Linked DNA regions of Homo sapiens: all the other regions are linked to region 3. The links come from fine-mapping of genetic effects on gene expression. A gene starts in region 3. Each other region holds a variant in brackets. All regions are shown on one strand. Distances are between the middles of the regions. Region 1 overlaps SPTBN4 (spectrin beta, non-erythrocytic 4). Region 2 has its middle 7.2 kb from the start of CYP2A7. Region 3 holds the start of EGLN2 (egl-9 family hypoxia inducible factor 2). Region 4 holds the start of MIA (MIA SH3 domain containing). Region 5 overlaps ACTMAP (actin maturation protease).

Region 1 (5,422 bases), 300 kb after region 3:
CACTCACCTCTCCCCCATTGCCTATGCCAGCCCCTGCTACTCTGCACCATCACTCCCGACTCTGACCCTCTTGGAGAGATATGGACCAGCCTCAAGACTCTCTTACCAGCTCTGTGGCCTGGACCTCGGTTTCCTCATCAGAAAGAAAAAAGCTGAGCCCCAGCTGCTGTCAGCTCTCACAGCTAGCCATGGTGTTCTGTCTCTGTCTCCCTCTCTCTCTACCAGTCTCTCTCTGAATGTTTCCATCTCTCGTGGACTCCACATTTCTGGGCTCTGTCTCTGTCACAGTGGCTCACTCTCTGCCTCCATGTCTTTCTTATCTATACATCTTTGTCTCCATCTTTCTCTGCCTCTCTTTCTACATTTCTACCCTTTTCTCTTTCTCTCCATCTCCTGTTCACCTTCCTGTCTGTGTCTCCTGTTCACCTTTCTTTCTTCCTTCCTTCCTTCCTTCCTTCCTTCCTTCCTTCCTTCCTTCCTTCCTTCCTCCCTTTCATTCTTTTTTCTTCTTCTTTTTTTGAGACAGAGTCTGCCTCTGTCACCCAGGCTGGAGTGCAGTGGCGCGATCTCAGCTCACTGCAAACTCCACCTCCCAGGTTCAAGTGATTCTCCTGCCTCCCGATTAGATGTACTTCGCCCGGCTAATTTTTGTATTTTTTAGTAGAGATGGGGTTTCGCCATGTTGGCCAGGCTGGTCTTGAACTCCTGACCTCAGATGATCTGCCTGCCTCAGCCTCCCAAAGTGCTGGGATTACAGGTGTGAGCCACCGTGCCCGGCTTCTTCTTTTTTTTTTTTTTTTTTTTTTGAGACAGGGTCTCACTCTGTCATCCAGGTTGAAGTGTAGTGGTGCAATCATGGCTCACACAGCCTCAACCTCCTGGGCTCAAGCGATCCTCCCACTTCAGAGTAGCTGGGACTACAAGCGCACACCACCACGCCTAGCTAATTTTTTTTTTTTTTTTTTTTGTACAGACAGGATCTCACTATGTTGATCAGGCTGGTCTCAAACTCTGGGGCTCAAGCAATCTGCCTACCTCGGCCTCCCAAAGTGCTGGTACCGCAGGTGAGAGCCACCATGCCCAGCTGGCTTCTATCTTTCTTGTCTCATCTCTCTCTAGATCTGGTAGGTCTCTCTCTCTCTCTCTTAAATTGATTCCATCTTCCTGTATCTTTCTCTGTAGTCATGTAGATTTCCATGTCACCTTTGTGTCTGCCTTCTCCTCTCTCTGTCTCTCTGATTTCCTCTCTCTCAAACTGTCACTATCTCTCTGTCTGCATCCCTGGTTTACTCTGTTTCTATATCTCTATGTCTTTTTTCATTTCTCTCTTTTTTTTTGAAACAGAATCAAACTCTGTCACTCAGGCTGGATGGAGTGCAGTGGCACCACCTTGGCTTACTGCAGCCTCTGCCTCCTGGATTCAAGCAATTCTTGAGCCTCAGCCTCCCAAATAGCTAGGACTACAGGCACACGCCACCACGCCCAGCTAATTGTTTTTTGTTTTTTTTGTTTTTTTTTTTGAGACGGAGTCTCGCTCTGTCGCCCAGGCTGGAGTGCAGTGGCGGGATCTCGGCTCCCTGCAAGCTCCGCCTCCCGGGTTCACGCCATTCTCCTGCCTCAGCCTCCCAAGTAGCTGGGACTACAGGCGCCCGCCACTACGCCCGGCTAATTGTTTTGTATTTTTAGTAGAGATGGGGTTTCACCATGTTGGCCAGGCTGGTCTGAAACTGCTGACCTCAAGTGATCTGCCCTCCTTGGCCTCCCAAAGTGCTGGTATTACAGGTGTGAGCCACCGTGTCCAGCATGTTTCTATTTCTCTCTATTTGTCTCTGTCTCTTTCTCATTCTGTGTTTCTTTGTCTGCCTCTCTTGTCCATCTCTGTATCTTTCTCTCCCTCTCTCTCTTGTTCTCTCTTTTTGTCTCCCTGGCTTTCTCTCTATCTTCTTCTATCTCTGCCCTTCCCTCTCCATCTCCAGCTGTCTGACAACTCTTTCAGCGTCTGCATCCTCCCCTCCCTCCTGGCACTCCACCCGCATCCCCGCCCCCCCGCCGGCACCTGCATCTCCTCCATCCAGTCCACCATGTACACCATCTCCTGGAAGACCTTCTGCAGGGCAAGGTTCTGCTCAAGTCGTGTCCGCCGGGCACCCACAAGCCCAGTTAGCAGGGCCCACTGGCGCAGGACGCTGTCACGCTGGGCTGCCACCCGCCGGATATCGTAGTAGCCTTCGGCTGCCAATGCCTGGGCCAGCTCCGCCACACCCTGCACCCGCTCCTCGTAGGCCGCAATGTCTGCCTCGATCGCTTCGTGTTTCTTCATGGCTGCCTCCACTGCGGGCAGCTCATACCCAAAGTTGTCCTGGGGCAGTGAGCCAGACACTCACCCATGCTGCCTCAGCAGTCCACCTGTTACCTTGACCCTGTGTGACCCTGGGG[A/G]CTCCCCACTCCATTACCTTGGAGACTGGCCCTGCCCTCCCTAGTTATCCTGGAGACCAGCCTCATCCTCCCCTGTTACCCAGGTAACCTGGAGACCAGCCCCACCCTCCATTGTTACCTTGGAGACCAGCCCCACCCTCCCCAGTTACCCTAAAGACCAACCCCCCATCCCCTGTTGCCCTGGAGACCAGCCCATCTTCCACAGTTATCCTGGAGACCAGCTCCACCCTCCCCTGTTGTCCTGGAGACCAGCCCAATCTTCCCCAGTTACCCTGGAGACCAGACCCACCCTCCCCTGTTGCCCTAGAGACCAACCCCACCTTCCCGTTTCCCCAGAGACCAGCCCCACTCTCTCCAGTTACCCTGGAAACAAGTCCCACCCTCCTGTTACATCTCTAACCTTAAACTTGTTACCCAGGAAGGAGGCCCATGCTTCCCCTGTCCTGGAGATTAGGGACCAGGTTTACCTGACTCTGTTACTTAGGAAACCAATTCTATCCTTCTGAGTTACCCTAGACACAAGATACAACCTCCCTTGTCACTTAAAACACTCCCCCATTCCTGAAAAGATGAATTCTGCCCTCTCTAGTTACCCTGGAGACCAGCCTCACTCTCCCATTACCCTGGAGATCAGGCCCATTCCCCTCACCCAACAATCACTTGGAAGGCCAAGTCTCCCATCCCCATCCTCATTTATCACCAGGAGACTAATCTAACTCTTCCCTGTTGCCTAGAAGATCAAGTCTCCCTCTCTGGTCCCAGGACCATCAGCCCCGCCCTCCGTCCCTTTACCCTGGAGCCAAGCCCTACACCTTGTACCTGGGAGACCAGACGCTGGTTCTCATTCAGCCAGCTCTCCCTCATAGCCACCTTGTGGTCAAACCTCTGTGCCAGTAGTTCCAGCTTCTCCTGCCGAATCAGCTCAGCCCGTAGGGCAGCCTCCCGCTCATGCTCAGCCTTCTCCAGCTCACCCCATGCCTGCAGGAGATGGGAGGAGGCACTCAGACTCTGACAGCTCCCCACAGTTTAATGGTCTTGACTTAGTCTGAGGTCACTCATAGCATTATGGCAACTTCATGCAAATTGGAAAAAATATTGCTTCCTTATGACACTTTACTACTGAAAAACTGTCAGAATGAATATCTAATCCATCATGTCTACAATGTGAATGATTCCCTTGAGCAGTGTGCAACCTATACAACTCCACAGTGCAACCCCGCCTCTCCCCTGCATCCCCGGCCTCACCTTGTCAATATCCCAGATGCCACAGCCCTCCCGAGGCACAAAGAGGCGACGGTTGCAGGCACGCAGTTTGCTCTGGATGCTGAAGAGCAGCACCTCTAGGTTCCCCTTCTCCTGGAACCTGAAGGGGCATGAGCTCAGGAGCCCTGCCGTCATGCCACCCCTGCCCACCCTCCCTCCAGAGCTGGGCCTCACTTGACAGGCTTCTCCAGCGTGCAATAGGCCGTGAAAGCCTGGAGTTGCTGCTGCACCCCACTTAAGGAGTTGGCAAATTTCTGATTGCTGATGAGGCCCACGGTGCGGTGGATCCAGGCCAGCAGCTCAGCCGCCAGCTCCTCGTAGCGTTCTATGATCTTCCCCACCTCCAATACCTGGTCCAAGACCTGACACAGCAGAGGAAGGGGGGTCAGCCTCATCCCACCCGTGCCTGCCACCAGCTTCCAGCTTCCCACTCACCCACTCCTTGGCTCCTTATACCTTCCCGATACGCTTCCCCTCCACAGCCAGAGCCTTCATCTTGGAGAAATAGTGGTAGAAAGAGACCACGTAGGTGATGATGGACTTCTCATCTGGAGCCTCCATGTTCACATCTGGAAGCAAGAGGGAGTGGGGAAACAAGACAGTGGGCACTTTGACAGAGTGCTTGAAGGTATTGGATGGAGGGATGGAGAAGCCACTCTCACTAGCTGTGTGACCTTGGGCAAGATAATTAACCTCTCTGTTCCTCAGGTTTTGTATCCGTCAAATAGAAATCTACCTCCTGGAATTAAATAGTGCCTGACACATATAAACCACCGCAGAGAAATAAGCTATACTTTTCTTTTTCTTTTCTTTTTTTTTTTAAGATGGAATTTTGCTCTTGTTGCCCAGGCTGGAGTGCAATGGCACGATCTCAACTCACTGCAACCTCTACCTCCCAGGTTCAAGTGATTCTTCTGTCTCAGCCTCCCAAGTAGCTGGGGTTATGGGCATGCACCACCATGCCTGGCTAATTTTATATTTTCAGTAGAGACAGGGCTTCACCATGTTGGTCAGGCTGGTCTCGAACTGCTGACCTCAGGTGATCCGCCCACCTCGGCCTCCCAAAGTGCTGGGATTACAGATGTGAGCCACCGCACCTGGCCTATATTTGTTTCTTGAACACACCTTTCTACCTTCCACCTCAGGGCCTTTGCATGTGCTGTTCTCACTGTCTGGAGCACTGTTCCTCTTCTGTGTTCCTAATTCCCACTTATTCTTCAGAGCTCAACTTTTTACTTTTTTTTTTTTCAAGAGATGGAGTCTGGCTCTCTTGTCCAGGCTGATTGTGCAGTGGTGCAATCATAGCTCACTGCAGCCTCGAGCTCCTAGGTTCAAGCAATCCTCCCACCTCAGCCTCCTGAGTAGTCAGAACTAAAGGTGTGAACCACCATGCCTGGCTCAACTCAAATTTCCTTAGACAAGCCTCCATGTTCACTCTGTCTATAGTTGATAATCCTCATGTTATTCTCCTCTTAGCATCTTATGATGTCCTTCCCAGAATGTATCACAATTTGTAATTACATATTCACTTATGTGATTATGTCATTATCTAGAGCTTGAGCTTCATGAGGACAAACACTATGCCTGTTTCCTTTCTTTTCCTTTCCTTTCCTTTCCTTTCTTTTCTTTTTCTTTCTTTTTTTTTGAGACAGTCTCAAGCTATTGCCCAGGCTGGAGTGCAATGGCGTGATCTTGGCCCACCACAACCTCTGCCTCCCAGGTT
Region 2 (5,864 bases), 90 kb before region 3:
AACCTCCCAAAGTGCTGGGATTACAGGCATGAGCCACCATGCCTGGCCTATCTTAGCTTTTTCATTGACAACATTAGTATAATGTTAACAGCTCTCCTAAGGGAGTCAATACAGTAAGTCATGTGGACTACTTACCAAAGAACCTGGCATATAGGGAGTGCATTGCAGTCATTTCCGGTTTTATTGTTTTTGTTGTTGTTGCTACCTACCATGACCTTGGAAGTTTTGCTTTATTGAAGCCAGTTCTCCACGGCCACTGAACTCATCCGCTTGGTCTATCAAGGCTTCCTTCACTGCTTCGTGTCCACATAAAACCACCACTGGCCGGGACCCATGTACACAGTGAACACAGGGCTGTATTTCTCCCTGAGCTTGGAGTGAAGGAAAACACAAGAGGAGGGGCTGACTGGAGTACCAAGCATAGGCCAGTTGAGGATTTTAGAGGATGGCGATTTTAGAGGGATATAAACATGGTACTAAGGAACCAAGGTAAATCTGGGCTTGGAAGGAATACTGGGAAAGAGGCACGGAAGTCTTGGCTTCTGTCATTCTCGGCAAAAGCTCATCCCTTCCCACAAGAGTTACTGTCTGCATCTCCAAAATAAGGGACCTGGATTCGATAAATTCCAAGATTCATACTTCTCTCTCTGAAATGTTAAATTTCTAGAATCTTAAGACTTCATGATACCAAGTCTCAAAGTGCTAAGACAAGCTGAGTCAAAGAATCCTGTGTTTAAAAATATAATGTACTGTGATTCCAAAGTCCTGAGATCATGAAAATCTTATTTCAATGCACTGAGAATGTGTGTTTCCAACATTTTAGGATTCTGGAATTTCAGAATTCTAAGATTTGCAAAGTCTGTGTTTCTGAGAGTCTATCTTTTAGAAGTCATAAGTTTCTATGTGAATCTGGCTATAGGATTAGTTGCTTTTAGCCCTATTAAAGGAGACAGACAGACTCACCTTCATGAAAGACTGAAACGTAGCATCAGTTCGAACTTGCAGCAGGTGCCCCAGGAAAAGAATTGGTGTAGGACCTGGGGGCAGCTTTCCTGCCTTATCCATTCGTTTCCAGGCAATGAGGATGAGCAGGCAAGACAAGCGGAGTGCCAGAAAGATGGTGACAGCCCCTCCCAGCTCCATGGTGCCAGGTCAACAGGTTCTGTCCTGGGCACCAGATCCTGCCTAAGTAGGTCCTGGGAGATCAGCTTATACCAAAATCTGAACACCCTGGGATTCAAGTTTTCCGGGTTTGAGTGTCATCGGGGAAGAGATTGCTTTATATTGGGGGTGGTTATATAACCTATAATCTCCCACCTGAATAAAGGTAAATTGAATTCACACAGGGAAATCCTCTGGGGCCATTCCCCTTTCTTCATATTTCCAGTCTCCCTGTTCTTCCCTCTCAGCTCAACAGAATTGAACAGAATTTCTTGGTGGGGTGTAAGAGGCAAATTATTATCTTTTTAGGCTATTGATTTTAGGATCCAGACAATCTGGGTACAAGTGGCAGCTCTGTCTTTTCTTCACTGGGAAAGTCACTTAACCTCTGGGACTTGTTTCCCCATCTATCAAACAGGGAAACCATGTTGTTTTATTTTTTTTTATTGTTTTATTTTTTGAGACAGATTCTCACTCTGTCACCCAGGCTGGAGTGTAGTGGTATAATCTCATTTCAACTTCTGCCTCCAGGGTTCAAGCGATTCTCATGCCTCAGCCTCCCAAGTAGCTAGAACTACAGGCGCACACCACCATGTCCAGCTAATTTTTGTATTTTTGTAGAGATGTGGTTTCACCATGTTGGCCATGCTGGCCTCGAACTCCTGGCCTCAAGTGATCCACCACCCGCCCCCCCGTTAGCCTCCCAAAGTGCTGGAATTACAGGCGTGAGCCACCACAGCTGGCAGACCATGTTGTTTTAGAAAGTCTTGATAGACAACAAGGAAAACTCTTTGTTCGTTACTTAATTAAGTATAACCCTAATTAAACAGTTATTAAATTTTTTTAATTGACATAATAATTGTACATATTTGTGGGGTACAGTGTGATGTTTTTATACATGTATGCGATGTATAACAATCAAATTCGGGTAATTATTATATCCATTACTGAGACATTTATCATTTCTTTGTGGTAAGAACATTCAAAATCCTCTCTTCTAACTATTTTGAAATATGCAATGTATTATCGTTAACTACAGCTACCCTACTGTGTAATGGAACACTAGAATGTTAATAAGGAAAGTAAGCTGAAGATTTAGAAAACAAGAGAAATAAATCAATTGAACAGGTTTTGTTCAAAAAGTTCTTGTTTTCTACTCAAGATGTTAAATAACAATAATCAAAGATTACTTGTGTTGGTGTATCAGAACTTTGCTGTATCAAATTTAAAAAAGAAAAAAAGAACTTTGCTGTATTGTGTGTTGGTGTGTGTGCGTGTGTGTGTTTTAAAACTCTAAGGTGTAGGGATCACCTCTGAACCCCAGTCTCTGGAGGAGAACATCTCCTCCAGCGCAATTAGTGATTGTGTTCCTTAATAATCTAAAAAGTGATTCACTACCTTTTCCGCACCAAATATTTTCAAAGCCTTATTGGCCTGAAATGAACTTCCTGGATATTATATCCTACCCACATATACTATTTATCAAAATTCAATGTCCTTTTCACACGACTGTATTCTCAGACTTGGAAACTGAATCCCTCAAGGTATCTGTAAGTTTTGGGAATGGGGTTTGGCTGGCTGAGCTGAGGCATCCTGTGTCCAGAAGCAGTGGAAATTCTACGAAAACTGAGTGACTCACACACAGTGCCACGTTCTGTCTCTTGGATCTGCTGCTAGAATGTCTTTCTTGGAGTA[G/C]AGACTCAGCTCAGCCCATCTCCTTTGACTCTCTTAGATTTCACCTCCCCATCCCATTCTGATCCTCACACCCCAGCATTTAACACCCATTCAGGGTGGTGGCATGTGTGTGGTGATGGTGAGTCTGGTTTTCCTACTCAGACGGGAAGGGAGAGAGCAAATACTCTTAGAACAGCTCCCTTCACCATTCCACCTCCAGATAGGAAGCCAGGAGTGGAGGAACTTGAACTAAAAAGTAGAAGCAAGCTAAAGAGGAAAAATAATTGCAGAGGACTTGAGGCAGAGAAATTCAGAGCATGGCAGATTATGCCAGGTATTATGTGATGGAGACAGAAATCAAGATTGAGACAAAATCGAGGTGCATAGAAACAGAACCAGAGTGAGATCAAAATAGAGATGAGGACAGGCACAGTGACTCACACCTGTAATCCCAGCACTTTGGGAGGCCAAAGCAGGTGGATCACCTGAGGTCAAGAGTTCGAGATCAGCCTGGCCAACATGGTGAAACCCTGTCTCTACTAAAAATACATGCACACACACACACACACACACACACACACACACACAATTAGCCAGTCATGGTGGCGGGCGCCTGTAATCCCAGCTACTCAGGAGGCTGAGGCAGGAGAACTGCTTGAACCCGGGAGGTGGAGGTTGCAGTGAGCCAAGATCGCACCACTGCACTCCAGCCTGGGCAACAAGAGCGAGACTGTCTCAAAAACAAAACAAAGCAAACAAAACAAAATTGAGATGAGAGAGAGAGAGATTCAGTGAGTCAAAGATAAATGTCAAGGAGGACACAGAGACAAAAGACAATTCAAAGAAACAGAGAGAGGGAGATAGAAGCAGAAAGAATAAAAGACAGGAAAAAAGTTTCAGTGAGACAGAGACTGAGAAAGTGACATACGGCTGAGAAGAGAATCAAGAGGAACCCAAAGAGTGGACGCACCCATGGCTCACAGAGAAATCCAACTAGACAAAAAGTTGGAGGTGGAGATGAACAAAGAGAAAGGCAACGAAACAAAGAGATACAGGGACAAGAGAGAAACCCAGGTCTAAGTGGGATAGAGAGAAGGAGATTTGTGCTCCAGAGGGTGTGTGCATGAAATGGAACCTGGGTCATTTTTTGCCTAGTCACATGGCCCTCCTTCTGGGACTAAGAAATGTGATGCTGCCAGAATATTTTTTTTTTTTGAGATGGAGTCTTGCTCTGTTGCCCAGGCTAGAGTGCACTGGTGTGATCTTGGCTCACTGCAACCTCCACCCCCGCCCCCGGGTTCATACTTTGTTTTGTTTTTATTTTTAATGTTTTTGATTTAAAATGGTTTTTTTTTTTTTTTCCTGAGACGGAGTCTCGCTCTGTCGCCTAGGCTGGAATGCAGTGGCACGATCTCTGCTCACTGCAACCTCTGCCTCCCAGGTTCGAGTGGTTCTCCTGCCACAGCCTCCCCAGTAGCTGGGACTACAGGTGCACGCCCGGCTAATTTTTGTATTTTTAGTAGAGACAGGGTTTCACCGTGTTGGCCAGGATGGTCTCGATCTCCTGACCTTATGATCCACCCACCTCAGCCTCCCAAAGTGCTGGGATTACAGGCATGAACCACCGTTCCCGCCCGGCCTTAAAATCTGTTTCAACTGGTATAAGTTATAGCTACTACTGCTTGCTGTTGGTTTTTGTCTACATGGAATATCTTTTTCCATCTATGTACTTTCAGTCTATATGCATCTTTACAGGTAAAATGAGTTTCTTATAGGCAGCATATAGTTGCATCATGTTTGTTTGTTTTTGTTTGTCTTGTTTTTGAGACAGAGTCCCTACTAAAAATACAAAAAATTAGCCGGGCGTAGTGGTGGGCGCCTGTAGTCCCAGCTACTTCAGAGGCTGAGGCAGGAGAATGGCATGAACCCGGGAGGTGGAGCTTGCAGTGAGCCAAGATTGTAGCACTCCACTCCAGCTTGGGCAACAGAGCAAGACTCCATCTCAAAAAAAAAAAAAAAAAAAGATTGCACCATTGCATTCCAGCCTGGGCAACAGAGCAAGACTCCACCTCAAAAGAAAAAAAAAAAAAAAGCTGTTCATCCCTATCATCTATCCAACTTCTTTCCCATCTCTGAACTCTAAGTCCTGCCATTTTACTGGTAGGGAGGAACTTCATGGCCATGGATGTGAGCTATCCAAACACTCAGAAAAAAAGAATCTTGACTGTCTTCTCTTCTTTGACCTTCTTCACTCTATTTTCAGCCAACATTCCCACAGCCCCACCCCCCAAATCCTTGTCATCAATCTGAAATGTGAAACACAGACATTTCACTCTCTGGCCACAACAACTAGTACCCCAACTCCCCCACTGCTTCATTGCCAATGGCATGAGGGGTATACTGGCCAACTAGGTCTTTGGTTAAGCTTCCAAAAAGTGCAAACACTACAGAAGGTCAAGTCTCCCTCCTATTAAAAGACTTTTTTTTCTAACATTTTGAAATCCTTTGTTACATGTTTACATGGAAGTATTTGAAGAAACACAAGAGAGTACAAGCAGTTTTTCTAATGTTTCATAAAGAAAAACAGGTGGGGCCTAGCAGTCCAAAGTGGTGATTAACAGCATGAAACTTACATTCACAGCCAGGCATGGTAGCTCATGCCTGTAATCCCAGCACTTTGGGAGGCCGAAGTGGGCAGATCACCTGAGGTCAGGAGTTTGAAACCAGCCTGACAAACATGGTGAACCCCGTGTCTACTAAAAATACAAAAATGAGCTGCGTCTGGTGGCTATAATCCCAGCTACTCGGGAGGCTGAGGCTGGAGAATCACTTGAACCCAGGAGGCAGAGGTTGCAGTGAGCCAAGATCGCACCATTGCACTCGAGCCTGGGCAACAAGAGCAAAAGAGCGAAACTCCATCTCAAAAAAAAAAAAATTTACCATCACACAAGACCATACTAAGACTCTACACTCATTAGCTGTGAAATGCAGAAGCAAGTCACTTATGACCGGCTTTGGGGGAACTTATC
Region 3 (5,864 bases):
GGACTAGAAACATGGGCCAGCAAACAGGGATGGACGACAGGAGCACAGGGAAGGATGTGGACAGGGACAGACAGCAACAGAGAACGGCCAGGTGAACTGTGTGCCTATCTACATCCCCGTGCTTGGTCTGGGGCCACAGACTGACACCAGGAGGCCATGAACCCCACCAAGGTCCACGCTGTGAATGTCAGCAGCTCTCATGAGTTTAAGAGGGTTCCTGGCAAAGTCAAGAACCACTGTGGCGATGCTTGAAGGCAGCATGCTCGTTAAGAGTCATCACCACTCCCTAATCTCAAGTACCCAGGGACACAAACACGCAGAAGGCCGCAGGGTCCTCTGCCTAGGAAAACCAGAGACCTCTGTTCACTTGTTTATCTGCTGACCTTCCCTCCACTATTGTCCTGTGACCCTGCCAAATCCCCCTCTGCGAGAAACACCCAAGAATGATCAATAAAAAAAGAAAAGAAAAAAAAAAAAAAAAAAAAAAGAACCACTGTGGCTCCAGGACAAACTCCTAGCTTATCAGGTGCACACATTAAGGCCCGTAGGGAGGATAAAGACCCCCCCAAGTCCCCACAAGTAAGCATACCCACTCCACTGAACTGCCTAAACCTTCTGTGACCTCCCAGAAGCCTGTCTCCAAACCCACTGTGCTCAGAGCACTGAATGCTGCAAACCAGGGTGCTGCAAAGCCCCTCCAAAGAGGCCCCCACCTAGCCTTACCTTGGTGCGCCCGTTGATGACATAGCTGCCCAGCCGCCCTGCGCAGTGGCGGATGACGGCGTCCACATGGGCCATGAGGGCACCAATGCTTCGACAGCCTGGTTCATGGCCTTCCACCCAGGCAATCTGGTCCCCACGGATGCTGCGCGGCGGGATCGCCCTCTGGCTCACTAGCTGCCCGTCTCGCAGGCGCCCACCCCGTTTGAGGGCCTCCACCTCGGCCAGCACGCGACCGCCCAGTGCTGCCCCCAGGAAGCTGTCCTTGACGCAGATGCCGTAGTACCGCATGCAGGGCACGATATAGTCCAGGGCCAGGCGCTCGGGCGCAGAGGGCAGCGCCTCCTCCATCAGCCCAGCACTGGCCTCACCACTGCCACTGCTGCAGCTGCAGCTCATGCCACCCTCCCGCTCTGCCTCCTGGTTCTCTTGCCTGGCCCAGGGCCGTTTGCTGGGTGAAGGGGCATCCCCACCATCCTCGGCCCATTTCCGTTTGGGGGCCTCAGGCCGTGCGCCCTGGGCTGCCAATCGCTGGCACCCCTTGGTGACCAGCGCTGCAGCGCCTTCACTCTGCAGCGGCCGCAGCTCACCACCATCCTGCCCGCCAAAACCGTCCCGAAGAGGGCTGGCAGTGGTAGAGGTGGCTGTGGCTCTGGGGGTCCCACTCCCTGCCGAGGCCTCACTAGGCACTCCTGGACAGTGGTAGGAGGGGAGCAGGGGACAGGGCAGGTAACTCTCCACTCCCATCCTGGCCCGGCCAGGCTCAGGCTCCAAGGGCTCTGACGAAGACCCTGGTAACTGAGGGAGAGCCTGACTTAGGGGCTGCGGCTGGCACGGGCTGTCCATGGCAGCAGTGTCTTCATCCCCCGGGCATGGAGGGCACCGCCCGGGCCCATGGTGCCACCCTCCTCCGCCTCCTCCTCCGCCTCCACTTGATGCAGCTGGGGGCCACCGGGCCTGGCGTGGGGCAGGGTGAGGCAGGGCAGACAGCAAGAGCTCTTCTCGTGCCCTGGGGGTTGCTTGCTGGTCCCCAAGTCCTCTGCGGTCCCTAAGGGCTTGGGAAGGGACCCTTCAGGGTGGCTAGAGAAAGGAAAAAAAAAAAGGGATGTGAGAGAAACTAGAGACAGGCAGGCAGGGGAAAGCCGGGATGGTATGGGCAGGAGTGGGGAAGACGACCAGGACAGACTTGACTATAGAGGCCCCCCAAAACCTGAGGCCAAGTCGGGGAGAGGACCCTGAGAATCTGGAGGTGCGGGAGTCCGCTGACAGATAAGAGGCAGTGATAGGGAGAGGCTGGAGGCCAGGGGCTGGGTAGATGACCCTAAGACAGAGGACTGTGGTGCAGGTTGTGGGACGCGGTAACCAAAGACAGAAGAAGGAGGGCTGGAGTAGAAAAGGGTGGTGTGGAGGAGTGGGAAAGGAGGGGGTTTGGAAAATAGGAGGGACCTGCCTCGGCGTTCCAGAAAGACAACGAGAAACGTGGGGGTTCCAGGGAGAGTCAGGGTGGGGGCGGGGGGGTCAAAAGACAGAGGAAACTGGGGAGTCCAAAAACAAAGAGAACGAGGGGCCCAGAGACAGAAAAATAGACCGGAGGGAAGCTGGGAGGGAGGACCCGGGGCGGAGCGGGACGGTGGGGTCGACCCGAGCCCGACGGGAGGAAGCCGGCCGGGGGCGGACACACGCCCAGACGGAAGGGAGGTCCCGAGACTGACCGACGGGAGGGGCCCTCGGGGAGAGGGTCCGCGGCGACAGAGGAAAGGACGGAGGAGGGTGCACGCACCCGGAGACAGGACGAGAGATAAAGGTGCCCCCATCCAGGGCACCCCAACGCCCCCAACCCGGGGCAGGCCCTGAGGCCCCTTCTGAGCGCAGTAGGCGACAGGGGCAGGGCCTAAGGGCCGCTCGGACCCCCTCCCCTCCCCCTCCACTCGGCCTCCGCCCGGCGCGCGCTCCCCGCCCCCACCCCAACCCCCACAACGGCCGGCACCCAACGTAACCGGCGCGCGTCCCCTCCCCCGCGCCGCACCCACATCCCCCTTCCCGGGGTCGCCCCGGCAGGCCCCGGCGCGCGCCCCCACACCCCGCCCGGTTCGCGCCGGCGCCCCGGCTCCGGCTTAGTCTCCTCCCGCTCCCTTCTCGCCCCGCGACCTCCTCACCGAGCTTTTTCCTCCGGCCCCGGCGCCGCCGTTTGTGCCAGCCGCCCTGCGCCGCACAGCGCGCCATACCCCGCCCCCACCGCGCGCGACGCCCCGCCCCGCCTCGCCCGGTGGGCACGTGACCGCGCCCCGCGGAGGGGACGGCGCCTGCGCAGGCCCGAGCCGCGCGGGGCGGGGCGGAGCGGGGCGAGGAAGTTCGGGACAACCCCCCTACCAAGGAGAAAGGAAACAGCGGTCCGTGGCCTACACGAGGTTCATTTGCATCCTCCGCCCCGCCCCCTTTGCGCGGGAGGGGGAACGCAGTGTGAGGGGCCGGGTCTGGGAGGGGGCGTTTCTTGCATGTTGGAATCAAGTGGCGTCGGCGGGGCGGGGCACGCAAATGATGTGATTTACATGGACAGGCCTACCCGCCCCCCGCCCAGCGCGGGGCACCGAGTTCGGCAGCGCGGTGCGCGTGACTTCATTTACATGGTCAGCTCCTCCTCCTTCTCGCCGTCCAGGAACGGAGGTGAGAGACGGAGAAATGGCTACGCAGTTAGTTGAGAAATGTATGTAAATTCGCACGTCAGTAATTTACATAAGTATCTTTTATAACGGAGGCAAAAAAGTGCGGGTTGCCCTTGAGAAAAGGGAACGCGGACTAGAAGGGATGTGCAAATGTGTATTTTCAAGACCCGCTCCGGCCTGCCCCCTCGGGACGATTGTGGGAATCAGAATAAAGAACCAGGGAAAGTCTGGGCAACGGAGTGAGACCTTATCTTTACACAAAATTAAAAAATGAAACAAAAAAAAATCCACGGAACGCTACACAGAGAAGACATTTGCATGGCCAGCTGGGAACACTTTAGGAGACTAAGGAGATAAGGTCATTTTGAATGCCCTGCCCGCTCCACCATTGCTCTGGAGAGCTGGGACTCAAGGCTCCCGCCGGGTCGGTGAAGGCCGACGTGGAGATGGGAGGGCGACGAGCAACTGGGAGTGTCCTCGGGGCTGCACCAGTCCCCTGCAGGCCACCTGAGGGCGTAGGGCGGTTCGCGTGAGCACAAGGGCATGCATACTGGTATCCACACATGCGTGAGGATTGCACAAAAGCCCGCAGTCCTCAGGGCACACACAGGGTTCATGGCCACACAAGGGTGTTTCTAGTTTAGTTTTGTTTTTGAGATGGGGTCTTACCCTTTTGCCCAGGCTGAAGTGCTGTGGCATGATCATAGTTCACTGCAGGCCCAACCTCCCAACTAAAGTGATCCTCACACCTCAGCCTCCGGAATAGCTGGGACTTCAGGTGTGTACCACGACACCTGGCTAACTTTTTCTGTTTTTTATTTTTGTAGATAGGGTCTCTCTGTGTTGCCCAGGCTATAGTCTCCAACTCCTGGGCTCAAGTGATCCATCTGCCTTGGCCTCCCGAAGTGCTGGGATTACAGGCATGAGCCACCACGCCTGGCCACACATGGGTGTTTAAAAGGAGCCAAATTCACACCAAAACACACACAGACCTCGGGGTACACATGCACAGGCACACACGCAGTAGTGAGTCACTGCCTCTGACTCTCAGGCATCAGACATGCACACACCGGAGGCCCACCTATAGGTCCAAATTCCCATCCCCTGGCCTTGATGTCCCAAACAATACCAGCCTCACCAATACAATGACCAAGGCCACAGAGCAGTTACGGCTGTCAGCATCACACACAACCAGCACACATTATATCCTATAGACATCATCCCATATGCAGGTACTGGAAACATGTACACATGTCACAAACACAGGGACATCAGCGTGTTTACACACGTGAGCTTAGAACACAGATTGTCACAAACTGTCCACACAGTAACAAATTCCCTCCCTCCGCAACAGGCACCTGAGTCATCATGCTTGGTATACCCCACACCACGTCCAATCAGGAAACAAGGCCCCCAAGGCCAGGCCCAGTGGCTCACACCTGTAATTCCAGCACTTTGGGAGGCCAGCGCGGGCGAATCACCTGAGGTTGGGAGTTCGAGACCAACCTTGACCAACATGGAGAAACTCCATCTCTACTAAAAATACAAAATTAGCCAAGTGTGGTGGCACATGCCTGTAATCCCAGCTACTCGGGAGGCTGAGGCAGGAGAATAGCTTGAACCCGGGAGGTGGAGGTTGTGGTGAGCCAAGATCACGCCACTGCACTCCAGCCTGGGCAACAAGAAGGAAACTCCATCTCAACAACAACAACAAAAAAACAGAAACAAGGCCCCCAAACACCATGACACATGATTCTTCCATCAGGGACCTCTTCCATCTCCCTGCCATCTCACAATAATGGAGGCCAAGACACAGGTGTAAACAATGCTTTATGGGGGTAGGGTGGGTGCTGGACAGGCCTCCAGGTAATAAATAACAGGTACTAGCAACAGCAGGGCCAGATGGGGAGTTGGGGACAAATGACCCTGGTCTCAGGCTTTGGGAGCTCTTGGGGTATGGTTAGGGGTTCAGGGGGACAGACGTTAGCCAAGACAGAGGAAGCAGCAGCAGGTACGGGATTCCCCCTTCCCCCGTGGCTCAGTCTTGCCCCAAAGCCAGGCCCCACCAGGCCAGGGAAGGGGGACAGGTGGCAACGTAGCTTCTCCGGGGCCAGGGCAGGTTAGGACACGGCCTCTCAGAGCCTGGGCCTGGGCCCCAGCAGGGCTGGTCCTGGAGAACAGGTGAGCTGAAAGAGAAGGGTGTGGTGACCTGCAGGGTCCCCGGGGTCTGTCCAGCCGGTCTCTATCTCATTTCCAGGTATTTCCTTCCCCTCCTATCTGCATCGGTCTGTCCATACCTTTCTTCTCCCGGTTTCTACATTGTCTGATTTTCCGCCTCTCCCCTGCAGGTAATTTGGGGCTTGTGCTGAGGGTACCTGCATCTCCCTCTTTGTTTGCCTCAGAGAGCTGTCTGAGTCTGTAAAGCCACATTTCAACATCTAAATATCATGAATCTGGATGGACGCAGTGGCTCACGCCTGT
Region 4 (5,864 bases), 26 kb after region 3:
AAATTTTTTTTTATAGAGATGGGGGTCTTGCTATGTTGCCCAGGCTGGTCTCGAACTCCTGGGCTCAAGCTATCCTCCCAACTTGGCCTTACTTGGGATTACAGGTGTGAGCTACTGTGCCCGGCTGCTGCTATTTTTTATGCCTTGCTTTTTGTTCATTTCCCTCCATTAGAATAAAAAGGATCATTTGTTGTTGTATCTTGGTGTCTAGAACAGAACGTGGGACCATATCAGGTCCTAAAATTGGTAAATAAAGTGAAAATAGGCTGGGGGGCAGTGGCTCACACCTGTAATCCCAGCACTCCGGGAGGCCAAGGCGGGCAGATCATGAGGTCAGGAGTTCAAGACCAGCCTGGCCAATATGGTAAAACCCTGTCTCTACTAAAAATACAAAAATTAGCCAGGTGTGGTGGTGCATGCCTGTAATCCCAGGTACTTGGGAGGCTGAGGCAGGAGAATCGCTTAAACCCAAGAGGTGGAGGTTACAGTGAGCCGAGATCGTGCCATTGCACTCCAGCCTGGGTGACAGAGCAAGACTCTGTCTCGGAAAAAATTAAAAAATAATAAGCAAATAAAATAAAGTAAGTAACAATATCCCCCCACAATGTCTATTTCAGTTCACCCCCCTCAAATCTTCCCTTCATGGGGATAATGAGTCTACCCCAGCTCTGTACCCTTCCCTCTTTCACTCTCCCAAGACTCACGCTGCCTCCCCAGAAGAGCCGCCCACGGCCCTTCAGCTTGGAGAAGACATACACCACTTGGCCCCGGTGAATGGTCAGGAATCGGCAGTCGGGGGCCATGTAGTCCTGAAGGGCCACAGCCATGGAGATAGGGTCTAGGGAAGGAATAGAAGGGAATGCAGCACCCTCCACACAGGCTAACGCCCAAGCCCCCAATTCTCCCCTCCCCATTCTTACGGCTGCACTCCTGGTCCGCACACAGCTTCCGGTCAGCCAGCTTGGGCATAGGACCACCCCTGACACCAGGTCCGGAGAAGGCAGACAGCAAGATGATGACACCAAGGCACACCAGGGACCGGGCCATCGTGGACTGTGAGCAAGAGAGTGAGCAAGGGGGTGCTGGGGTCTCCAATTTCCTCCCCTCCCTCTCTCCCGTAGTACAAGGAAACTTGTGTTCTTGGTCTTGTCCCCGCCCTAAACCAGTCCCAAACTTCGCCCACACCACCTAGAAGTTGCTATGAAACCAGAACCATTTCAAGGATAGGGTAAAGGCTGTAAGCCCAAGGAAATTCCCAGATAAGGTCCAAAGCAGCTCACAACTTTCCCAGTGACAGCCCCCTCCTCAACAATCACAGAGGCCTAGATAAGGTGGTTGAAATATTCAATTCCATCTTCTCTTGAGTTGGCTTAGGTACCTGGGCTCCTCCGCTGTCCCCTCTGGCCACAGAAGCGGAGGAGCCTGTAAAGAAAACCACCTTGGAATTTCCTGTGCTGTGGGGCAGGAGAACAAGGCAGCCCTTTGATTACCAGAAACAGCCCAGCCCTTGAGTACTGACTGAATATTGTATGCTGAACCTTAGGCTAGGCAAAGTCCCACCATGATCACTATTCCTCTGCACCAGACGCTTCCCACTGGATGACCTGGGCTAAGCTATTTCTCCTCACAAAGCCTCAGCTTCCTTATATGTAAAATGGGAACAATAAAAAAGCCAATAGTTACAGAGCATTCACCAAGTACATATTTATGTTATGAACTCAAATGGATACTCTGTATCATGTCAGGAGGAGTGATTATAACCCCTCCCTTTTTTTTCTTTTTTGAGACAGGGTCTCACCCTGTTGCCCAGGTGGAGTGCAATGGTGCCATCCCGGCTCACTGCAGCCTCAACCTCCTAGACTCAGGCAATCCTCCCACCTCAGCCTCCTGAGTAACTGGGACTACAGGCACAAGCCACCTATGCCCAATTAATCCATTTTTTTAAATAATTATTTTGAGGTAGAGTCTTGCTCTGTTGCCCAGGTTGGAGTGCACTGGCATGATCCTGGTTCACTGTAGCCCCTATTTCCTGGGCTCAAGCATTCCTCCCACCTCAGCCTACCGAGTAGCTGGGACCACAGACATGTACCATTATGCCCAGTTAATTTTTTGTATTTTTTGGTAGAGCCGGGGTTTCGTCATGTTGCCCAGCCTCGTCTCAAACTCCTGGGCTCAAGCAATCTGCCCACCATGGCCTTCCAAAGTGCTGGGATTACAGGCATGAGCCACCAAGCCCAGCCTAATTTAATTTTTTGAGACAGGATCTTGCTGTTGCTCAGGCTGAAGTACAGTGATGTGATCATAGCTCACTGCATCCTCAAACTCCTGGGCTCAAGAAATCCTCCCCTCTCAGCCTCTCGAGTAGAATAGTAGGCAAGTCACCATTCTTGGATGATTTCTTTTATTTTTATTTTTCTAGAGCCAATGTCTTACTGTGCTGCCTGGGCTGGTCTTGAACTCTTGTCCCCAAGTATCCTCCCGCCTTGGCCTCCCAAAGCACTGGGATTACAGGCATGAGCCACCAATGCCTGGCCTATAACCCCTTGTTACATGGAAATGGAAGTGTGGAGTTAAGGAACTTGTCTAAGGCTTACAGAGCCAGGAAGTGGAGAAGTGGAGAGGCTAAGACTTGTATCCAGGCCCACAGCCATTGCTATGCTATCTTTTTTTTTTTTTCTTTTTTTTCTTTGAGATGGAGTCTCATATTGCAGTGGTACAATCTCAGCTCACTGCAACCTCCACCTCCCGAGTTCAAGCAATTCTCCTGCCTCAGCCTCCCGAGTAGCTGGGATTACAGGCATGTGCCACCATGCCCGGCTATTTTTGTATTTTTAGTAGAGACAGGGTTTGTCCATGTTGGCCAGGCTGGTCTCGAACTCCCCACCTCAGGTGATCCACCCGCCTCGGCGTTCCAAAGTGCTGGGATTATAGGAGTGAGTCACCGCGTCTGGCCTGAAAGATTTTTTTTTTTTTACAGGCAGGGTCTCACTCTGTCACCCAGACTAGAGTGCAGTGCCACAATCACAGCTCACTCAGCCTTGAACAACTGGGCTCAAGCTATTCTCCCAC[C/T]GCAGCCTCCTAAGTAGCTGTGACTATAAGTGTGAGCCACTGCACCTGGCTTTGAAATGCAATTTCTTTTTTTTTTTTTTTTTTTTTGAGACATTGTTTCGCTCTTGTCACCCAAGCTGGAGTGCAATGGCACGATCTTAGCTCACTGTGACCTCCCCCTCCCGGGTTCAAGTGATTCTCCTGCCTCAGCCTCCCAAGTAGCGGGGATTACAGGCATCTGCCACCATGCCCAGCTAATTTTGTATTTTTAGTAGAGATGGGGTTTCACCATGTTGGTCAGGCTGGTGTCAAACTCCTGACCTCAAGTGACCCACCCACCTTGGCCTCCAAAAGTGTGGGGATTACAGGTGTGAGCCACCGCACCCGGCCCCACTTTAAAACACTCTTTAAAAAATTATTTCTTCATTCAGGCCAGACATGGTGGCTCACTCTTGTAATCCCAGCACTTTGGGAGGCTGAGGCAGGCGGATCACTTGAGGTCAGGAGTTTTGAGACCAGCCTGGCCAACGTGGTGAAAATACAAAAATTAGACAGGCATGGTGGCACACACCTGTAGTCCCAGCTACTTGGGAGGCCGAACCAGAATCACTTGAAACTGGGAGGTGGAGGCTGCAGTGAGCCAAGATCACGCCACTGCACTCCAGCCTGAACGAGAGAGTGAGACCCTGTCTCAAAAAAAAAAAAAAAAAAATCCGCCGGATGCAGTGGCTCACACCTGTAATCCCAGCACTTTGGGAGGCTGAGGTGGGTGGATCACCTGAGGTCAGGAGTTCAAGACCAGCCTGGCCAATATGGTGAAACCCTGTCACTACTGAAAAATACAAAAATGAGCCAGGCATGGTGGCGCATGCCTGTAGTCCCAGCTACTCAGGAGGCTGAGGCAGAAGAATTGCTTGAACCTGGGAGGTGGAGGTTGCAATGAGCCAAGATCATGCCACTGCACTCCAGCCTGGGTGACAGAGTGAGACTCTGTCTCAAAAAAAAAAAAAATCATTTCTTCATTCATTGAAGATTTCATGAGTACATAAAGTATCCTAGGACTTAATCCAGACCCTGGAGATTCATCAAGGAATGAAAATTAAAGGGGAGATAATCAATGAACAAAGTTCAGATATATGATAGTGTGTGAAGTATTAAGGATACTCAGAAAGAACACTCAAGAATCAGCTGTGGGAACCGTGCCCCCTGCCCCATATTACTGATGAAGCCACAAAGAAATAGAAGTGACTTCAATTCCCAAAGCACAGTGCATGTATCTCCTGCTGCATAATTAGCCTAAGACCAACATTGCCCCAGTGCAGTGGCTCATGCCTGTAATCCCAACACTTTGGGAGGCTGAGACAGGAGGATTGCTAGAGCCTAAGAATTTGAGACCAGCCTAAGTAACACAGGGAGACCCTTGTACCTACAAAAAGAAGAAAAAAAGAGAAAAACTAGCTGTGCATGGTGGTACAAACCTGTAGTCCCAGCCACTCAGGAGGTTGAGGTGGGAGGACCACTTGAACCCAGGATGTAGAGGCCGCAGTGAGCCATGATCGTGCCACTGCACTCTAGAGCAAGAACCTGTTTAGAAAAAAAAAGACCAAAATTATCACCTTTTCTGTGGGTCGAATGTCTCAGGCTTAAGGTCTGCTATAAGGCTGCAATCAGCCTGTCAGCCAGGGGTGCAGTTTCATCTGAAGGCTGAATGGTGGGAGGACTGCTTCCAAACTCATTCAGGCAGCTGTTGGGGAGATGCAGTTGCTTGTGGGAACTGGACTGAGGGCCTCTGTCCTCAGTTTTCTTGACACGTGGACCTCTACAGACAGCTTGAGAGGTGAAGATGGCTGGGCCTCTGGGCCGGTGAGGACTTGGAGAACTTTTCTGTCTACCTAAAGGATTGTAAATGCACCAATCAGCACTCTGTGTCTAGCTAAAGGTTTGTAAACACACCAATCAGTGCTCTGTGTCTAGCTAATCAGGTAGGGGACTTGGAGAACTTTTCTGTCTAGCTAAAGGATTGTAAATGCACCAATCAGCGCTCTGTGTCTAGCTAAAGGATTGTAAGCACGCCAATCAGCGCTCTGTGTCTAGGTAAAGATTTGTAAACGCACCAATCAGCTCTCTGTAAAAACGGACCAATCAGACTCTGTAAAACAGACCAATCAGCACTCTGTAAAATGGACCAATCAGCTATCTGTAAAATGGATCAATCAGCAGGATGTGGGTGGGACCAAATAAGGAAATAAAAGCAGGCCACCCTAGCCAGCAGCTGCAACTGGCTCAGGGCGCCTTCCATGCTGTGGAAGCCTTGTTCTTTTGCTCTTTGCAATAAATTTTGCTGTTGCACATTCTATAGGTCCACATTATCTTTATGAGCTGTAACACTCACCGCGAAGGTCTGTGGCTTCACTCCTGAACTCAGCATAGACTACAAACCCACCAGAAGGAAGAAATTCCAGATACATCTGAACATCTGAAGGAACAAACTCCAGGCACACCATCTTTAAGAACTGTGACACTCACTGCGAGGGTGCATGGCTTCATTCTTGAAGTCAGCGACGCCAAGAACCCACCAGAAGGAACCAATTCCAGACACAAGCTCACAACGTGGCAGCTGGATTTCCCAACAGCAAGACAGAGGCCAGTCTTTGTACCCACCCTTTGTACTCTTCCTCCATATTGCAGCCACAGGAGCAGGGCCACTGAGAAGCACAATTTTTTTTTTTAATTTTTTAAAATTTTGAGACAGAATCTCACTCTGTCGCCCAGGCTGGAGTGCAGTGGCATGATCTCGGCTTACTGCAACCTCCGCC
Region 5 (5,864 bases), 55 kb after region 3:
TGAGTCCGCACCCCCCCAACACCCAAACCGAACCTTGCCTTCTTACCAGCCTTGGAATAGGAATAATAAGCATGGGCCGGGCACGGTGGCTCATGCCTATAATCCCAGCACTTTGGGAGGCCAAGGCAGGCAGATCACCTGAGGCCAGGAGTTTGAGACTAGCCTGGCCAACATGGCAAAACCCTGTCTCTACCAAAAATATAAAAATTAGCCGGAAATGGTGGCACACACCTGTAATTCTAGCTACTCGGGAGGCTGAAGCAGGAGAATTGCTTGAACCCAGGAGGTGGAGGTGGCAGTGAGCCAAGATCGCACCACTGTACTCCAGCCCGGGCGACAGAGCAAGACTGCATCTCAACAAAAAAAAGGAGGCCGGGCATGGTGGCTCACGCCTGTAATCCTAGCACTTTTCAGAGGCTGAGGCGGGTGGATCACCTGAGGTCAGCAGTTCGAGACCAGCCTGACCAACATGGAGAAACCCCGTATCTACTAAAAATACAAAAAAGGGCCGGGTGCAGTGGCTCACGCCTGTGATCCCAGCACTTTGGTAGGCTGAGGCGGGCAAATCACGAAGTCAGGAGATCGAGACCATCCTGGCTAACAGGGTGAAACCCTGTTGCTACTAAAAATACAAAAAATTAGCCAGGTGTGGTGGCGGGAGCCTGCAGTCCCAGCTATTCGGGAGGCTGAGGCAGGAGAATGGCGTGAACCCGGGAGGCAGAGCTTGCAGTGAGCCAAGATCGGGCCACTGCACTCCAGCTGTCTCAAAAAAAAACAAAAACAAAAACAAAAACTTAGCCAGGCATGGTGGCGCATGCCTATAATCCCAGCTACTCAGGAGGCTGAGGCAGGAGAATCGCTTGAACCCAGGAGGCGGAGGTTGTGGTGAGCCAAGATCGCACCATTGCACTCCAGCCGGAGCAACAAGAGGGAAACTCTGTCCCAAAAAACAAACAAACAAACAAACAAAAAGGAATGAATCCCTCAGGGCCAGACTATCTGAGTGGCCTCCCCCAGGGTACAAAGATTCACTATCAAGGTGATGTTTTAGGCCTTAAGCATGTTGTTACCTGGTTTTATTCAAAGTTCAGTTAAGGGATTTTCATTGTTGAACAGCCCAGGAAACAGACTTGAAGCGAAAAACAAATCACAGAGTTTGGAGCCTGGGCAACATATAGCATGATCTCATCTCTACTAAAAATAAAAAGAGTCGGGCACGGTGGCTCACGCCTATAATCCCCAGCACTTTGGGAGGCCAAGGTGGGTGGATAACCTGAGGTCAGGAATTCGAGACCAGCCTGGCCAACATGGTGAAACCCCGTTTCTACTAAAAATACAAAATTAGCTGGGCGTGGTGGCGCATGCCTGTAATCCCAGCTACTCGGGAGGCTGAGGCAGGAGACCCACTTGAACCCGGGAGGTAGGGGTTGCAGTGAGCTGAGATCGCGCTGTTGCACTCCAGTATGGGCAAAACGAGCAAAACTCTGTCTCAAAATAAAATAAAATAAAAAGAACTAGCTGGACATGGTGGTGCATGCCTATACTCCCAGCTACTCAGGAAGCCGAGGCAGGAGGAATAACTTGACCCTGGGAGGTCGAGGCTGCAGTGAGCTTTGATTGCATCATTGCATTCCATCCTGGGCAACAGAGCAAGAAAAAGAGTTGGAGATAGAGATACCACTTTGAGAAATTTCCTCAGATAAACCTGGTTGCAAAGTGCCACCCTTTGCTCCTCACCCTTCAATAACTGAGAGAGCGAGCAGGGAGCAGGCAGGCAGAAGGACCATTCCCACAAACCAGATGAGGAAACTGAAGCTTGGGGAGGGGAAGTCAGTGACTGAACCAGGAGCCGCCTTCAGCCTTAGGACAGCCAGGCCCATATTCCCTTCATCATCCCTGGATACGACCACTCCCAGCCAGACCTCAGGGTAGGGGGTGCTTCAGAGCTGGCTCCCTGGTGACTGAGCACGGCTCTGCTTCAGGTTCCGAGGTGACCTGCGGTGGATCCTCTTCTGTGCAGACCTGCCGTCCCTCATCCAAGAAGGCCCTCAGTATGTGCCCTGATGCGGGAACCCCAGCCCATCTGCTGCCTTTACTCTGCCCTTGCTGGGCTTCTTAAGGACTGATCTGGAGAAGAGGAGTGGATTGTCCCTGCTGGGAGGAGGAGGGAAGGAAAGGGGGAACTTTCCACTCAGGCTTCTGAGTGCCTGCATAGTAAACATAGTTGGGACATGCGAGGAATGAACGAATGAGCCTGGTCCATCTCTCTAACTCCACCTTGGTTCCTCCTCCCAGGAAGCTCAGGTGACCTCTCCCCCGCCTTCCACCCCCAGCCCTCCAGCCCTGGGCTCTCCCCTGAAGGGGAGTCAGGTCTCCCTCGCTGGCCTGGGAGAGGGGAGGGGGACTCCTCCAGGGCAGCAAACCTGTTCCCCAACTCCAGCTTCCAGGTAAGGGGGCTGTGACATAGGATTGACAGGCTGGGCCTCTCTGTCCCCAGATGCGGGCTGGTGGCCTTGTGGATGGCAGGTACTCTCCTGTCGCCCCCCAGTGGCGTCCCCCTGGAGAGACTCATACGGGTGGCCACGGAAAGAGGCTACACGGCCCAGGGAGAGATGTTCTCAGGTGAGCTGGGTGACTGCATGCTCCATCATCTCTTCATGAGGCTGGGACCAGAGAGGCTGGGTGGGATGCTGGCAGCCGTGTGTCAGGGTGTCTCATTCCATTCTTTGGGCCCTTCCCACTGCCCAGTAGAGCAGAGAGGTTACAAGATGGACTTGAGCTGGCTGCCTAGGTTGCAAACCCAGCTCTGCCACCTCTTCGCTGGGGCCATGGACAAGCCACTCACGCTCTTTGTGCCTCATTTTCTGCATTTGTACCAAGGGGTGGAAGGTCATGGTGAGGGTTGGAAGCATCGCCCACTGTGAGCCCTCAGCACGGTGCTGGGCACATGCAGCAAGCCCCCTCTGTGTGCTCTCACCCTGCAGTGGCCGATATGGGCAGGCTGGCCCAGGAGGTGCTGGGCTGCCAGGCCAAGCTGCTCTCTGGTGGCCTGGGCGGTCCCAACAGAGACCTCGTCCTGCAGCACCTGGTCACTGGACATCCCCTGCTCATCCCGTATCCCAGGGCCTGGGAGAGAGGAGGGCAGGGGTGGCAAAGGGTGGGTCCCAGGGCCACACCATCGTTTTTACCTTAATGCCAGCACCAGCTACGACGAGGACTTCAACCATGAGCCGTGTCAGAGGAAGGGCCACAAGGCACACTGGGCGGTGAGTGCAGGTGGGTTCCCCCTCCTTTGTCTGCACCCCTCAACCTGGGTCTCCCCGGCCTCCATTAATCCTCCTGACATTCTCACCCCTTGTGCTGGTGCCTCCCCAGCCAGGCTGGGCACTTAGCATTAGCACCGGGCAGGCTGGGCCCCAGGTGTCTGCCAGTTGGAGCTTCTACAAACAGAAGCTCAGAGCACAGATTTCAGGATCAGACCGTCTGGGCTCCAGGCCTGGCACAGCCTCTTCTAGGCTCTGTGACTCTGGGCAGGTATCATCACCTCTCTGGACAGCTCCTTTCCCCATCTGGAAATTGGGGGTAACAGTACCCACCTCATAAGGCTGCCTTGTAGGCAGAGCACTCAGCACTCTTAGA[A/C]CAAGGCTTGGCCAGGCGCGGTGGCTCACGCCTGTAATCCCAGCACTTCGGGAGGCCAAGGTGGGTGGATCGCTTGAGGTCAGGAGTTTGAGACCAGCCTGGCCAACATGGTGATACCCTGTCTCTACTAAAAATACAAAAATTAGCCAGGCGTGGTGGTGTATGCCTGAAATCCTAGCTACTTGGGAGGCTGAAGCAGGAAAATTGCTTGGACCTGGGAGGCGGAGGTTGCAGTGAGCTGAGATCGTGCCACTGCACTCCAACCTGGGTGACAGAGCAAGACTCCATCTCAAAAAAAAAAAAAAAATAGAACAGGGCTTGGCGTGTGACATGTCTCTGTAAGTATTACCAGCACCGTTTTCATCATTCCCCCTGCCTGAAAGAAAGAAGGCCAGGTTGGTCCGCGTCAGGAGGTCCGGGGGAGGCTCCGCTCAGCTTCTTCATGGCTTTGTGGTCTTGACAGCTCCTCTTGGAGCCTCTTCCCTAAAGAGCTGAGGATGACCGGGTGACGGCATTTGCTTCATCTCATGCTGCCTCCCCACCTCCCCTGTGCTCAGGCCAGATGAGGCAAGACTTAAAACACCTACAGCTTTGGAGCCGGGTGCCACGGTGGGTCCAAATCCCAACCCACTGGCCACCACTAACGTCACCGTAACCTAGGAATGGCAGCTGCACCCACCCTGGAGGGCCGGGAGAGGGCGGAACTTAGTGAGCCCCAGCACCTGGTCCTGGCTCAGTCACTGCCACTCACCACCTTCTCCTCTCCCCCAGGGGTCCTGCTGGGTGTTCGGGCTGTGCCCAGTCTCGGCTACACTGAGGACCCTGAGCTGCCGGGCCTGTTCCACCCAGTGCTGGGCACGCCCTGCCAACCACCATCCCTGCCAGAGGAGGGCTCCCCGGGAGCTGTCTACCTGCTGTCCAAGCAGGGCAAGAGTTGGCACTATCAGCTGTGGGACTACGACCAGGTCCGGGAGAGCAACCTGCAGCTGACGGACTTCTCGCCCTCACGGGCCACTGACGGCCGGGTGTACGTGGTGCCCGTGGGTGGGGTACGGGCTGGCCTCTGTGGCCAGGCCCTGCTCCTCACACCACAGGACTGCAGCCATTAGCTGCGGCTGCGGTCTCAGGCTGCAGCCTAGCTCGGTAACCATTTGAAGTGTGCCTACACTTCTCCCACTGTGTGATGGCGACAAGATTGAAGCTAGGTCTCAGGGGTCTCCAGTCCTCCTTCATCAGGGCCACCCCCTGCAGTATTGAGCACCAGCTGGTCCCTCTAGGGAGAGATTGACAACAGCCCGGACCCTGCGGCCTGCCTATTCCATCTGAATGTCGCATCGTCTGTTTCTCACTAGGGGCCGCCTCTGTCATCTCACTAGACATTTGAGGAACCTCCTGCCTGGGCCCTCTGCTTCTCACAGGACAGGGACACTGAACTGCGTCAGCCTCAGCTCACCCCTCCTTAGCCCAAGGTCTTCCTCATGCTTGCCACCTACTAGTCATACTGGCCTTTTAGATCCCTGAAGTGTTGTTCAAATCCCCGGATCATTGAGTCCCACCCCCAGCCCTCTGCTGCGGATCACTCCTTAACTTTTCCATTGGGGCTCAGGTATCACTACCTCAGGGAAGAGTCCTGCAGCCCCAGTCAAGACACCCCTCCCCCACCTCATGTCTTCACAGTTTTAAAGCCCATCTGGGAGCAGTTACCTGTGCCAGCCCCTCTACCTGTGTTAGCAGATCTGGCAACCCTGTAAGGGGGGTGCTAGATGGACCCGATTTGACAGATGGCAAGACTGAGGCCTGGAGAAGTGGAATCACTGGCCTGAGGTCACATGACTAGCACATGGCAAGGTCAGGATTCAAGCTAGGTAGTCAGTATCTCAGCCAGGCTGTCTCCTGGCTCCCTGAACATTATGGTGCTGACCACAAACTTTCCTGTCCACTTATACAAACTTCTAGTGAGTGTGTGTGATTACTAGCTTCATGAATACCTGACCCCTCCACTCTGAAGGAGGAACAGGCCTGTCTGGATCACTTCTCTGTCCCTAACTGAGCCCATCTCATTTAGGGAAACTACAGAGCACTGTTGCTTTTTTTTTTTTTAGATGGAGTCTCGTTCTGTCGTCCAGGCTGGAGTGCGGTGGCGTGATCTCAGCTCACTCCAGCCTCCACTTCCCAGGTTCAAGTGATTCTCCTGCCTCAGCCCCCCAAGTAACTGGGATTACAGG

The links. PIP is the estimated chance that this variant, and not a neighbour inherited with it, causes the effect.
Region 1: its variant is fine-mapped to the expression of EGLN2 in whole blood (TOPMed, PIP 0.99).
Region 2: its variant is fine-mapped to the expression of EGLN2 in whole blood (TOPMed, PIP above 0.99).
Region 4: its variant is fine-mapped to the expression of EGLN2 in whole blood (TOPMed, PIP above 0.99). The same link has a PIP of 0.9 or more in blood mononuclear cells.
Region 5: its variant is fine-mapped to the expression of EGLN2 in whole blood (TOPMed, PIP above 0.99).

Annotation. Positions count from the first base shown.
Region 1 is chr19:40,500,767-40,506,188 of GRCh38, reverse strand. It overlaps SPTBN4 (spectrin beta, non-erythrocytic 4), which reads right to left. Exons shown (of 36, transcript NM_020971.3): 8 at 4,156-4,268; 9 at 3,874-4,061; 10 at 3,682-3,799; 11 at 3,256-3,414; 12 at 2,057-2,359. Among named protein-coding and RNA genes, the nearest start is that of SPTBN4, 36 kb to the right of the region's middle. The variant A/G (reference allele first, on the strand shown) is at 2,437.
Region 2 is chr19:40,886,498-40,892,361 of GRCh38, reverse strand. It overlaps the pseudogene CYP2G1P. Among named protein-coding and RNA genes, the nearest start is that of CYP2A7, 7.2 kb to the right of the region's middle. The variant G/C (reference allele first, on the strand shown) is at 2,857.
Region 3 is chr19:40,796,275-40,802,138 of GRCh38, reverse strand. It overlaps EGLN2 (egl-9 family hypoxia inducible factor 2), which reads right to left and starts at 2,948. Exons shown (of 6, transcript NM_080732.4): 1 at 2,877-2,948; 2 at 724-1,800. The coding sequence starts at 1,566. RAB4B (RAB4B, member RAS oncogene family) reads right to left here. Exons shown (of 8, transcript NM_016154.5): 8 at 5,197-5,569. MIA-RAB4B (MIA-RAB4B readthrough (NMD candidate)) reads right to left here. Exons shown (of 10, transcript NR_037775.1): 10 at 5,195-5,569. RAB4B-EGLN2 (RAB4B-EGLN2 readthrough (NMD candidate)) reads right to left here. Exons shown (of 12, transcript NR_037791.1): 8 at 724-1,800. RefSeq lists enhancers at 1-334, 513-1,187 and silencers at 2,611-2,660, 2,811-3,170.
Region 4 is chr19:40,770,726-40,776,589 of GRCh38, reverse strand. It overlaps MIA (MIA SH3 domain containing), which reads right to left and starts at 1,069. Exons shown (of 4, transcript NM_006533.4): 1 at 921-1,069; 2 at 705-838. The coding sequence starts at 1,047. It overlaps MIA-RAB4B (MIA-RAB4B readthrough (NMD candidate)), which reads right to left and starts at 1,053. Exons shown (of 10, transcript NR_037775.1): 1 at 921-1,053; 2 at 705-838. The variant C/T (reference allele first, on the strand shown) is at 3,070.
Region 5 is chr19:40,741,317-40,747,180 of GRCh38, reverse strand. ACTMAP (actin maturation protease) reads left to right here. Exons shown (of 6, transcript NM_198476.5): 2 at 1,983-2,051; 3 at 2,498-2,622; 4 at 2,985-3,114; 5 at 3,206-3,276; 6 at 4,411-5,864. The coding sequence ends at 4,748. Among named protein-coding and RNA genes, the nearest start is that of ACTMAP, 6.2 kb to the left of the region's middle. RefSeq lists enhancers at 1,207-2,172, 2,173-3,139. The variant A/C (reference allele first, on the strand shown) is at 3,640.